2 linked regions of the Homo sapiens genome follow. The protein of the gene in region 1 purifies or fractionates together with the protein of each later gene. This does not show direct contact. Each region holds a gene or a part of one and is shown in the gene's direction. Other genes may lie near its edges.

What was found. The genes of interacting proteins can lie anywhere in the genome.
Region 2: the proteins of MS4A10 (region 1) and DSTYK purify together in Homo sapiens (affinity purification with mass spectrometry; one large-scale study listed by BioGRID and IntAct). This does not show direct contact.

Annotation. Positions count from the first base shown.
Region 1 is NC_000011.10:60,787,631-60,792,739, forward strand, and holds part of MS4A10 (membrane-spanning 4-domains subfamily A member 10), read left to right. Parts: intron 1-2,683; 5' UTR 2,684-2,705; coding exon 2,706-2,888; intron 2,889-3,343; coding exon 3,344-3,463; intron 3,464-4,634; coding exon 4,635-4,691; intron 4,692-4,694; exon of another isoform or gene 4,695-4,877; intron 4,878-5,109. UniProt on the Homo sapiens protein: May be involved in signal transduction as a component of a multimeric receptor complex.
Region 2 is NC_000001.11:205,165,755-205,170,863, reverse strand, and holds part of DSTYK (dual serine/threonine and tyrosine protein kinase), read left to right. Parts: intron 1-1,031; coding exon 1,032-1,701; intron 1,702-5,109. UniProt on the Homo sapiens protein: Acts as a positive regulator of ERK phosphorylation downstream of fibroblast growth factor-receptor activation. Involved in the regulation of both caspase-dependent apoptosis and caspase-independent cell death.

The DNA of each region.
Region 1 (5,109 bases):
GACCAGAAATTGAAACCTTCAAGGCCACTTTGCCCAAAAGCAGACCCCACAGAATACCAATTGCATAGAACCGTTAGACAATGAGAAAAAAAAGATCCTATGGCCAGCCGGGCGCAGTGGCTCACATCTGTAATCCTAGCACTTTCGGAGGCCAAGGTAGGCGGATCACCTGAGGTCGGGAGTTTGAGACCAGCCTGACCAACATGAAGAAACCCCATCTCTACTAAAAATACAAAATTAGCAGGGCGTGGTGGCAGGTGCCTGTAATCCCAGTTACTCAGGAGGCTGAGGCAGGAGAATCACTTGAACCCGGGAGGCGGAGGTTGCGGTGAGCCAAGATTACGCCACTACACTCCAGCCTGGGTGACAAGAGCGAAACTCCGTCTCAAAAATAGAAATAAATAAATAAATAAATAAATAAATAATAAAGATTATATGGCCAATTAAGTTTGGGAAATGCCCTTAATACTAAAACAGAGTGTGCCACTTGTAGAAAATCTCAGAGTCTTTAATATGAGAAAAAGGGAGAAGAGGCTAACCATGGTTTCTCAAACTTATTTGACCATGGAACCCTTTTACTGCAGATACATCAGGACCAATGTTCCATGGAACATACTTTGAGAAAGGTTATTCTGGATTCTTGAGTCCAACTCCCTGTTGGATATTTGAACCATTCCTACTGCCACAGCTCTCACAAGTGAATGTCTAGGTGGAGGTACAGCTCCAGTGCCCAGGCACTCACTATCTCCGTGGACAAGCAGTTCCATCCAAGGCAGCTCTACTAAGAAGTCCCTCTTCTTCTGTTCTTTGCAGTGGAGTCCAGGCCTGGGTCCAGGTATTGTCCTCCCAGGTGTGCAGAGTCTAGGTGAAGCCAGTGGCTAACCTGGTTCAGGCCTCTGCCACCGAATACATCCCTTAGTCCAGCTAGCTGTGTCAGACGGACTTCTGAAGGCTTGGGAACCTTCCCAAGGGACAGTTCCCAGAGGGACAGTTCCCATGCATAGCTGGGCAGAGTCACAAAAAGAATCATACAGCACTGTGTCTATGAGCTCAGCTTCTGAAGCCCAGGAAAGAGGGAGACCCTCTGCCCACTCACCCCACTAAATCAGCGGTCGTCACTGCAGGACCATGGAGATATCAATCAGGGGGTCCTACCCAGCAGCCCAGGCCCAGAGCACTGGCGATGGAGTAAGACCATGCGTGGTTCCAATTCCAGGCACTTCCTCACTGTGTGACCATGGCCAAGGCAGGCAACCTCTCTGAACCTTGGTTTCCTCTTCTATGCAATGGTGCTGACTTCCTGAGTATTAAGGGAGGTTGCCAGGCAAAACTGCCTCCTGGCACAGTGCCCGGCATACAGTGCTCACCCAACTGTGAGGCCCCATCTGGCTCTTTGGCTCTTGATAATGTCCCTTCCTTTCCCCTCTACCCAATCCAGGATATAGTCACCTGGGCTATTTGTCCCTCCAAACTTCCCAAAACTCTTTCCCTGCATCCCTGTGGAAAATGTGGATGCTCAATGGAACTTCCTGGATCCACAAGTCAGACTTAAAAGTGAGAGGAATGGCCCTCCCTTTTCATTCATCCAGGATACAGTCTGAGAGCAGCCTCTCTCTCTCAAGGATTTGCTCATTAGCCCCATCCCCATGGAGAAACCATCTCTGACCTCAATCCCTGCAAGCCAGCTCCCTTTCTTCCCCGCCCAGCTGTCCACTTCCTGGGACAGAAAGACTACGTTGGATTTTCTCACCAAGTCCCAGGCAGCCCCCAAGCCCTAGTGCATCCCACGGCGTCAGTATACACTATACCAGGCCCTGTCTGCAGGTCGTGTGTCCAGCCCCCTTCTAACTTTTTTCCCCAACTCCTTTTTGTGCCCATGAGAACATCCAGAACATTCATTTCCAATTGTTGAGCCAACAGTGCATGAAGGACTTAAGCCCCAGGCTCTGGAGCCAGCCTGCCATGCTTCAAGTCCAAGTCACTTACTGGTTGTGTGACCATGGGCAAGTGGCTTAACCTTTCTGAGCCTCATCTGCAAAATGAGAGTGAGGACGGTATTTACCTCATAGGGTTGGAATGAGGACAAAATCAGGTAATGCACGTAGAAGGTTTATCTCAGTGCCTGGAGCAGAGAAAGTATTTGTAAATGTTAGCATCGTTAAATATGGACTTCCTGACTCAGTGTTGGCTCATAAAAAGTCCTCGGTGGAAGATATTTTCTTCCCTTCTCTCCAGGAGGCATGGGCACCACCACAGGAGGTAGGACAATTATTTCCCACCTGCCTTCAGTCACTCTTCTTGGACCAGTGGATGGAGACTGTTTACAAAGCCCCTCCATTGACCTGCACCTCTCGCACCTCCCAACTCTTCCAAACTGCAGTCTGGCCACTTTGGGTGAGCTCTGTCTTCCACTGGTTGTGAAGTTTGCCTGGTCCTCATTTTTCTGCCCCAAAAGGAGCTGTGTCTTTGCAACCCCAGAAAGGCTGTGAGCAGCAATTACTCCCATCTCCAGGGGCCAGATTATTCCAGGTCAAATCAAGACCAAGACCAGGGGCTGCCAGACAGGGCAACCACAGTTCTGGAAAGATCTGGTCCCTTAAACAGAGGTGATTGGCAGAGGCTCACCCAGGCACAAGCCTCAGAAATGAGACGGGTTCTGACGGCCTTCCTCCCCGTCCTGCAGCCAGGGCCCCCATCCAGCATCAATGAAAGCAGAAGCCACAGTTATTCCCAGCCGTTGTGCTAGGGGGCTCCCATCATGGCAAGTCCTCAGCCCAGTCCAGCCCTGGCAGACAAGTGCACCCCAGAACACGACCCAGCCCAAGCTCCTGGCTCCACACCAGCACGAGAAGTCCCAGAAGAAGAGCAGCCTTCTTAAGGAGCTGGGGGTGAGCATCCACTTCCCAGGGTCCCAGCAGTGGGAGGCAGAGGAGAGGGGGATATGAGGAGGATGCTGGGGGGCCCCAAGGGAAGAAAGGGAAAAGAGAAAGGCTCCAGCTTTCCTGCTGAACATTCATCTGAACTGGAAAAGGCCTTGAAGATTGGAGAGAATCTGCCCACACCTACTACTGCCTTGTGAGGTTTGGACAGGGCCCTGTCCTGGGGAGAATGGCAGAAGGCTGCCAGCTCCAGGATAGATAGCTCCCACCCATGGGGCCCTTGGCAGCTTCAGCTCTTTCTGCAGGAAATCCTGGGGAGTGGTCCTTCTTAGAGAGCCTGGTCTCTGGGATCCCTAAGAGGACAGAAGGGACTCACCACAGCCAGTAGGTCCAGGGCACTAGTGGCCTCAATTAGAGCCAGTGACCGATGCCCTCACCCCAGCCATTCTCTCTTCCCCACCCAGGCCTTCCACATCACCATCGCTCTGCTGCACCTGGTCTTTGGGGGCTACCTGGCCTCTATAGTCAAGAACCTTCACCTGGTGGTGCTGAAGTCTTGGTATCCATTCTGGGGGGCTGCCTCTGTGAGTAGAAGGCAAAACACAGACCGGGTGTGGGAGTCTGCAAGGCAGGCCTGGGAGGCCCTGGCATTTGGGACAGGATGCAGGGTGGGATAGAGAGAGCTAATAGGAGTGCGGCAGAAGCGAGGCCCTTTCTCCAGTGTTCCTAGCTCTGCTTCTTTTATCTTAGTCACAATGGAAATAGCTCCTTCCAGGGAGCCCCTGTCAATTCTGAGTCCCAAGAGAGCACTTGGAGGCTATCCATTCTCCCATAATTGAATATGTGCATTTGGCAAAGAGGAGGGTGAGTAAGACCCAGGGACAGCTTCATTCTTCCCCAGCCTTCTGAGCAGCCAGGCTGCCTCTGGATCCAGCTACAGGTGCCCTGTTGGGGTTGAGCTACAAAAACACACAGGGTGTAAGGTGTGGCTCCTGTCCTCCCAAGGCCATCAGCCAGGATGGGAGATGACACTGGACCAGTGCATGCACCATTTCCCAGAAGCTCTACATTCCTTCAGGTCTCCAGGGAGCCCACCCCATTCCTGACTCCCAGGTGGAGTCCTGCCTATGCACTAAGTCCAAGCTCCACGGCACTGTCTTGGGCAAGTATCCCAATCCCCCTTTCACATCAGTCCACTGTTCTCACTGCCCACAGGATGGGGCTTTCACTGCACAGTGATAGAACTTTCCACACATGCAGTGCTTATTCACCCTGTGCTCCCAGGGACTAGCCCATAGTAGGTGCTCAGTGCACATTGGAAAGAATGATTGCAGAGGTGCTCCCAGAGACCTTGGAAGCAAGAACTCATATCCTCCCAACTGCAAGATTCAAGAAAAGAGAAACAGTCGGGGTGGAGGGGATAGTGCCACTGATCCCAGCGATGGTTTGGGTTTGTAAAATGAGGGAAGCAGGAGGGTCTAGGAGGGAGTTCTAAGTGCAGGGCACAGCTTGGTCCAAGGTGTAGAGATGGGAGGAGGTATGGAGGTTTGTGCACATGGGAAGATGTGAGGTGGGGCAGCTTCTTGGATGGGCCACATGGCAGGCAAGAGGAGCTCACTTTGCTGGAGGAATAGTATTCCCTGCCCCACTGGCCGCCAAGGGTTGATTTTCTTGGAGAATAGGGGTGGGGGTGGGAATTTGTGGGTTTTGAGGAACCCCAGCTTCTCTCCTTTGACTTTCAAATCTGTCCTGCAGTTTCTCATTTCAGGGATCTTGGCGATAACAATGAAGACCTTTTCTAAAACTTACCTGGTGAGTGGGCACACTGAGATCATTCTCTTCCATCTGAGCATGGCATAACTTTGTTAAGGGCATCTGTCTGTAGGGGTGATTGTGAGGGCACTTCTCCAGGACTTGCTAAGAGCAGGCTCTTGCCTTCAGGACAGCAGAGGATGTCCAAGCAGAAGGGTCCAGATGCAGACAGGCTGACAGACTTGGCTGTGGGAGGAAAGGAAGCACCATCTGAAGCTTCTCTCTTTCCAGTGCAGTGAGGCAGAGAAGGAAATGGCTCCCAGGCACCCTGACCCATCCATCTAGGACACAACTTTGCTTCCTCTCAAATCTACTGTGTCTTAATCTTAATCACCACATAGCCTGCAAGCCCCAGCCTCCAGCTGGATTTGCATCTACTTCTCCTCTCTAAGAGCCAGGCAGATGGAACGGTGGTCCT
Region 2 (5,109 bases), on another chromosome or scaffold:
TCACATCTGTGCTCCAAGCAGGAAGAAGGACAAGGCCAAAGGACATATTTCCTGGTAGAATCCACCCCCTGTACCCTAAAGGGCTTTCCTGGAAACCCCACCCACTTATCGGATACCCCTATCTGTAAAGGACATTGCCTTCACTTATAACATGGAGACTAGATATTGGATAGGCAAACCTTGGTCTTTGCCATACCAAGTGATCGATCATATTCCTAAAGGTATTTCTTAGACTTAGGTTGCTAAGACTTCGGGATATCTACAGACTCAGAACAGGACAGTAATAATGTTTGGTGAACCTGGCTTTTCGTTTCCTGCTTAATTGATTAATTCAACAGTATTTAGGACTTACCACATGCTAGGCACTGGAGCTACGATAGTAAGCAAAATAGACCCAGTCCCTGCCCTCAAAGAGTTTACAGACCCATGGGGGAAAGAAAGGTTTTAAAGAAGTGGATTATAAATATGTTGAACCTTAAGAAGAGGGAAGTAAAGTGTGCTTGGTTGGGGCTGTGTGATAGGAAAGGCTCTATAAGGATATGTCATAACATATACATTGAAACTTAAAGGATGCTTAGGAGTTAGCCAGGTCAGAATGGCAGGGATGGAGGTGTCAGAGGAGAGCAAGAGGGGGAGGAGTGCCCCAGGTCGACTCACTCCCAGTCTGATAATTTCCATTACAATTCCTTTTTCTTCCATTATTTGTCTTAATTCTTCATCAGAGGGAATCAGTGGGAATGTCTAAGCAATAAAGGAAGGCAGAGACCAAAATTTTTTTTTAATCTGATGGCTAAAGGGGTTGCCATCCTTTCTACTTCTTTGTTTTTTCACTCTCTCTAGATGAGTGCCTGCCTTCATAGGCTGCACCAGGGAGTGTTGGTAACCGAGGAAGGAGGTGGATCAATGGCTGGGGTACCGAAGTCCAATTGTTCCATTGTAGATCAGGATTTTGGTCTCAGTGTGGGACTTTGGGGAGACAGGGATTGGTTCTGACCCTGAGGCGCTGATATATGACCCCCTTCCCCTTCCAGGAAGTGGACGTTGTGGTAGCACCATGCCAAGGCCTCCGGCCCACAGTGGATGTTCTGGGTGACTTGGTGAATGATTTCTTGCCTGTGATAACCTATGCACTCCACAAAGATGAACTCTCTGAGAGGGATGAGCAAGAGCTTCAGGAAATCCGAAAGTATTTCTCCTTTCCTGTATTCTTTTTCAAAGTGCCGAAACTGGGCTCGGAGATAATAGACTCCTCAACCAGGAGAATGGAGAGCGAAAGATCACCGCTTTATCGCCAGCTAATTGACCTGGGCTATCTGAGCAGCAGTCACTGGAACTGTGGGGCTCCTGGCCAGGATACTAAAGCTCAGAGCATGTTGGTGGAACAGAGTGAAAAGCTGAGACACTTGAGCACATTTTCTCACCAGGTGTTACAGACTCGCCTGGTGGATGCAGCCAAGGCCCTGAACCTGGTGCACTGCCACTGCCTTGACATCTTTATTAACCAGGCATTTGACATGCAGCGGGACCTGCAGATCACTCCCAAACGTCTGGAATATACTCGAAAAAAGGAGAATGAGTTGTATGAATCATTGATGAATATTGCCAACCGAAAGCAGGAGGAAATGAAGGATATGATTGTTGAGACACTTAATACCATGAAGGAGGAACTTCTGGATGATGCTACTAACATGGAGTTTAAAGGTAGGTCCCAGAGAGCTTGTTGGGGTGCTGGCACGGGAGGAGTCTCTAACCATTTTCTAGCCGGAAATTAAGAACGTTAATTCCTAAGGTTAAAGGAATCTCAGGGTAACTTCATCCACCCCACTGTTACCAGCAGGAGCCCACTATTTAGCCAAGGTGGCCTCTCTTGCTCTCAAAGATCATTGTGGAAGATTCCACCCTCATTCCTTCCCAAGAACATTAGCTCAACTTTTGGTAAATTCATCCTAATAGCTCTGTAATCTCCACTTTCTGCCTGTACCCCCTCAACCCCTAATGGAGCTGGAGAAGAGCTGCTTGGAGAATGTTAGTAAATTGTGCTTTAACCTTTGCTCCTGCAGTATGGCTCATGCCTCTTTATTGGTTCTTTTTGTCTCATGGTCTAATTTCCTTTCAGGCTGCTTCTGAAGCCCACATCAGGAGGATTTCCCAAAGTTGTGTTTTTAGCCTTTTGACAGTCCTATTCTTCACAAATGGCTACTAACAAAATTGGGTGAAAGTGATTGGTCAGGTCTTTGGGTGTCTGAGATGCTGCTGATTTTGTATACTGACTTCTGTATAAACCTCCATGCAAGATTAAAATGACATGGTTTGCAAGTTACCCTTTAGAGTCTCAGTTGTGAGTATCCTAATCCCTTGGGAGGCTTTCTGAAAATACACATGCTCAAGACCACTAAAGATGACTGCAGACTTACTCACGATTTCTGACATGGGACCCAGCATCAGTATTTTTAAAAAATAACCTCCCTAGGTAGATTCTGCTTATTTCCTTTTTCTAGATGAGGGACTAAGGCTTAGAAAGAGTAAGTAATTTGCCCAGGGTCACACAGCTAGTAAATATTAGAGGCAGGATTTGAATCCAGACAGTCTGATTCCTGAGCCCATATTCTTAATTTCCATCCTTTACTGCTTCTTAATCTGTTTCCAGTTACTGATGCCACCTTCTTCCTGGTACCCACCTTCAAAACCTCAGCATGGTCTTGAATTGTCTTCCCTTGGCTAATCAGTTGCCAAGTACTGATTAATCTTTCTTTTTTTTGAGATTAAGTCTCGCTCTGTCGCCCAGGCTGGAGTGCAGTGGCGTGATCTTGACTCACTGCAACCTCCGCCTCCTGGGTTCAAGCAATTCCCCTGCCTCAGCCTCCCGAGTAACTGGGATTACAGGCGTGTGCCACCGTTCCCGGCTAAATTTTTTTTTGTATTTTAGTAGAGACGGGGTTTCATCATGTTGGCCAGGATGTTCTTGACCTCGTAATCTACCCGCCTCGGCCTCCCGAAGTGCTGGGTGGCGTGAGCCACCACACCTGGCCTCGATTAATCTTCTTACGTATTCGATACCTATCTATGCTTTTCTATTCTGTCTTAAGTCTAACTGAACTATTGTTATCTAACTGATCTCCCTGACTTCTTTCTTCAGTTCACCTTTACTGGCTCCCTACTTCTACAGACTAAGTTTAACTCCTACACCTAGTATTAAAGACCTCCCAAAGCCTAGCCCTTACCAACTTTTCCAGTCTTATTTCCCCACTATGCACTTTCCTGTATTTTCTATGTCAGTTGGTCTTAACTTCTTTCTGTCCTCCATACGCTCCCTTTACTTTTTCTTTGCTAACACCCTGCCTTAAACCTGGAATGTCTTTGATTTGTCTGTGAACTTCCAAATCCTACCTACCCATCAGGGCCTGTCTCCCAAATGCCATTTTTCATGAAGTCTTCTTTAATTTTCTCCTTCTTTTTTTATTTTTGGGACAGGTTCTTGCTCTGCCATCCAGACTGGAGTGCAGTAGTGCAGTCATGGCTCACTGCAGCCCCAATCTCCTGGGCTCAAGCAATCCTCCTGCCTCAGCCCCCTGCACACCTGGGACTACAGGCACATGCCACCACACCAGCTAACTTTTTGTATTTTTTTTTAGAGACAGGGGTTTCACCATGTTGGCCAAGCTGGTCTTGAACTCCTGGTCTCAAGCAATCCTCCCACCTCGGCCTCCTAAAAAGTGCTGGGATTATAGGCATGAGCCATCACACCTAGCCCTGCTTTAATTTTCTTAGCTAATAACAATTGCAGTCATTTGAAATCCCATAGCATTCCATCTGTAACTTATTTCTGGCATATTTCACTTTCTATCTTTTATTATAGTTATTTATGTACTGCGGACTACTTCCTAAAATCCTAGAGTTGAAAGAGGGTAGGATCTGGGTCTTATTCATCATCATATTCCTTGCAGCAAATAACACAGACTCTTGTATACAGTACGTCTTTGGAGAATCAATGAGTGTGTGAATGATGGTATCTAGTTTAAGTTACACTTATAAATACAAAGGAAGTATGGTTGACTTTAGCAAACATAGGTTGCCTGATTTCTTATAGTCATTCTAAAGATGAACAGAGATACCTCTTTGGTTAATTCCCCACTGCGAGAGGAGTTGTTGAGAAGTGTTACTTGCAGTGGAAATCTTAGGAAGTCTTCTCAATATTTGATTAAAGACACCAGAGCATCACTGCCGGCATCATATTACACAGAATGGAGGTCAGGACAGCTAGGTTGGGCAGACAGTAAAGTATCCGATTGTTCTTACCTTGTTCTAAGTGCTTTCTGAGTATCCTTGAAACAATAAGAAGATTTAGAAGCAAGCTAGCACATATTCTATGGAGCCAGATTTTTTTTTTTTTTTGTAAAGACGAGGTCTTGCTGTGTTGCCCAGGCTTGTAGCGATCCTCCTGCTTCAGCCCCCACAAAGTGCTAGGATTACAGGTATGAGCCATCGTGCCCAGCGTTGAGCCAGATTACTATTACTGTCTGTTTTTAAATAAAGACAATGCATATGTGCTAGGTATCATGATATTCACACTTTATAAAATTTATTTTTAAGATAAAACCTATATGTATAGTACTTAACTCAGAGTTATAAAGACACCATCCCCCAGCCACCCAGTTCTTCTCCATATGTTCTTCTGCACTTGTCTTTTTCATTTAATATGTATCTTAGAGGGCATTCCATAAATATTCATACAAATTTGTCTTCTTCTAATGGATATGCCTGAATTTATTGAACTATTCTCTCATTGGTGGACATTTAAGCTGTTTGTTTTTGTTTTTTATTTTTATTTATTTATTTTTTTTTGAGACAGGATCTTGTTCTGTCGCCCAGGCTGGAGTGCAGAGGCCTGGTCTAGTCTCACTACAACCTCCGCCTCCTGGGTTCAAGGAATCCTCCCACCTCAGCCTCCCTAGTAGCTGGGTCTAAAGGTGTGCACCATCACACCTGGGTCTAAAGGTGTGCACCATCACACCATCATACCTGTATTTAGTAGAGACAGGGTTTCACCATGTTGGCCAGGCTTATTTGTTTATTTTTTATTTTCTCTTTCGCTAATACAAAATGTACTGC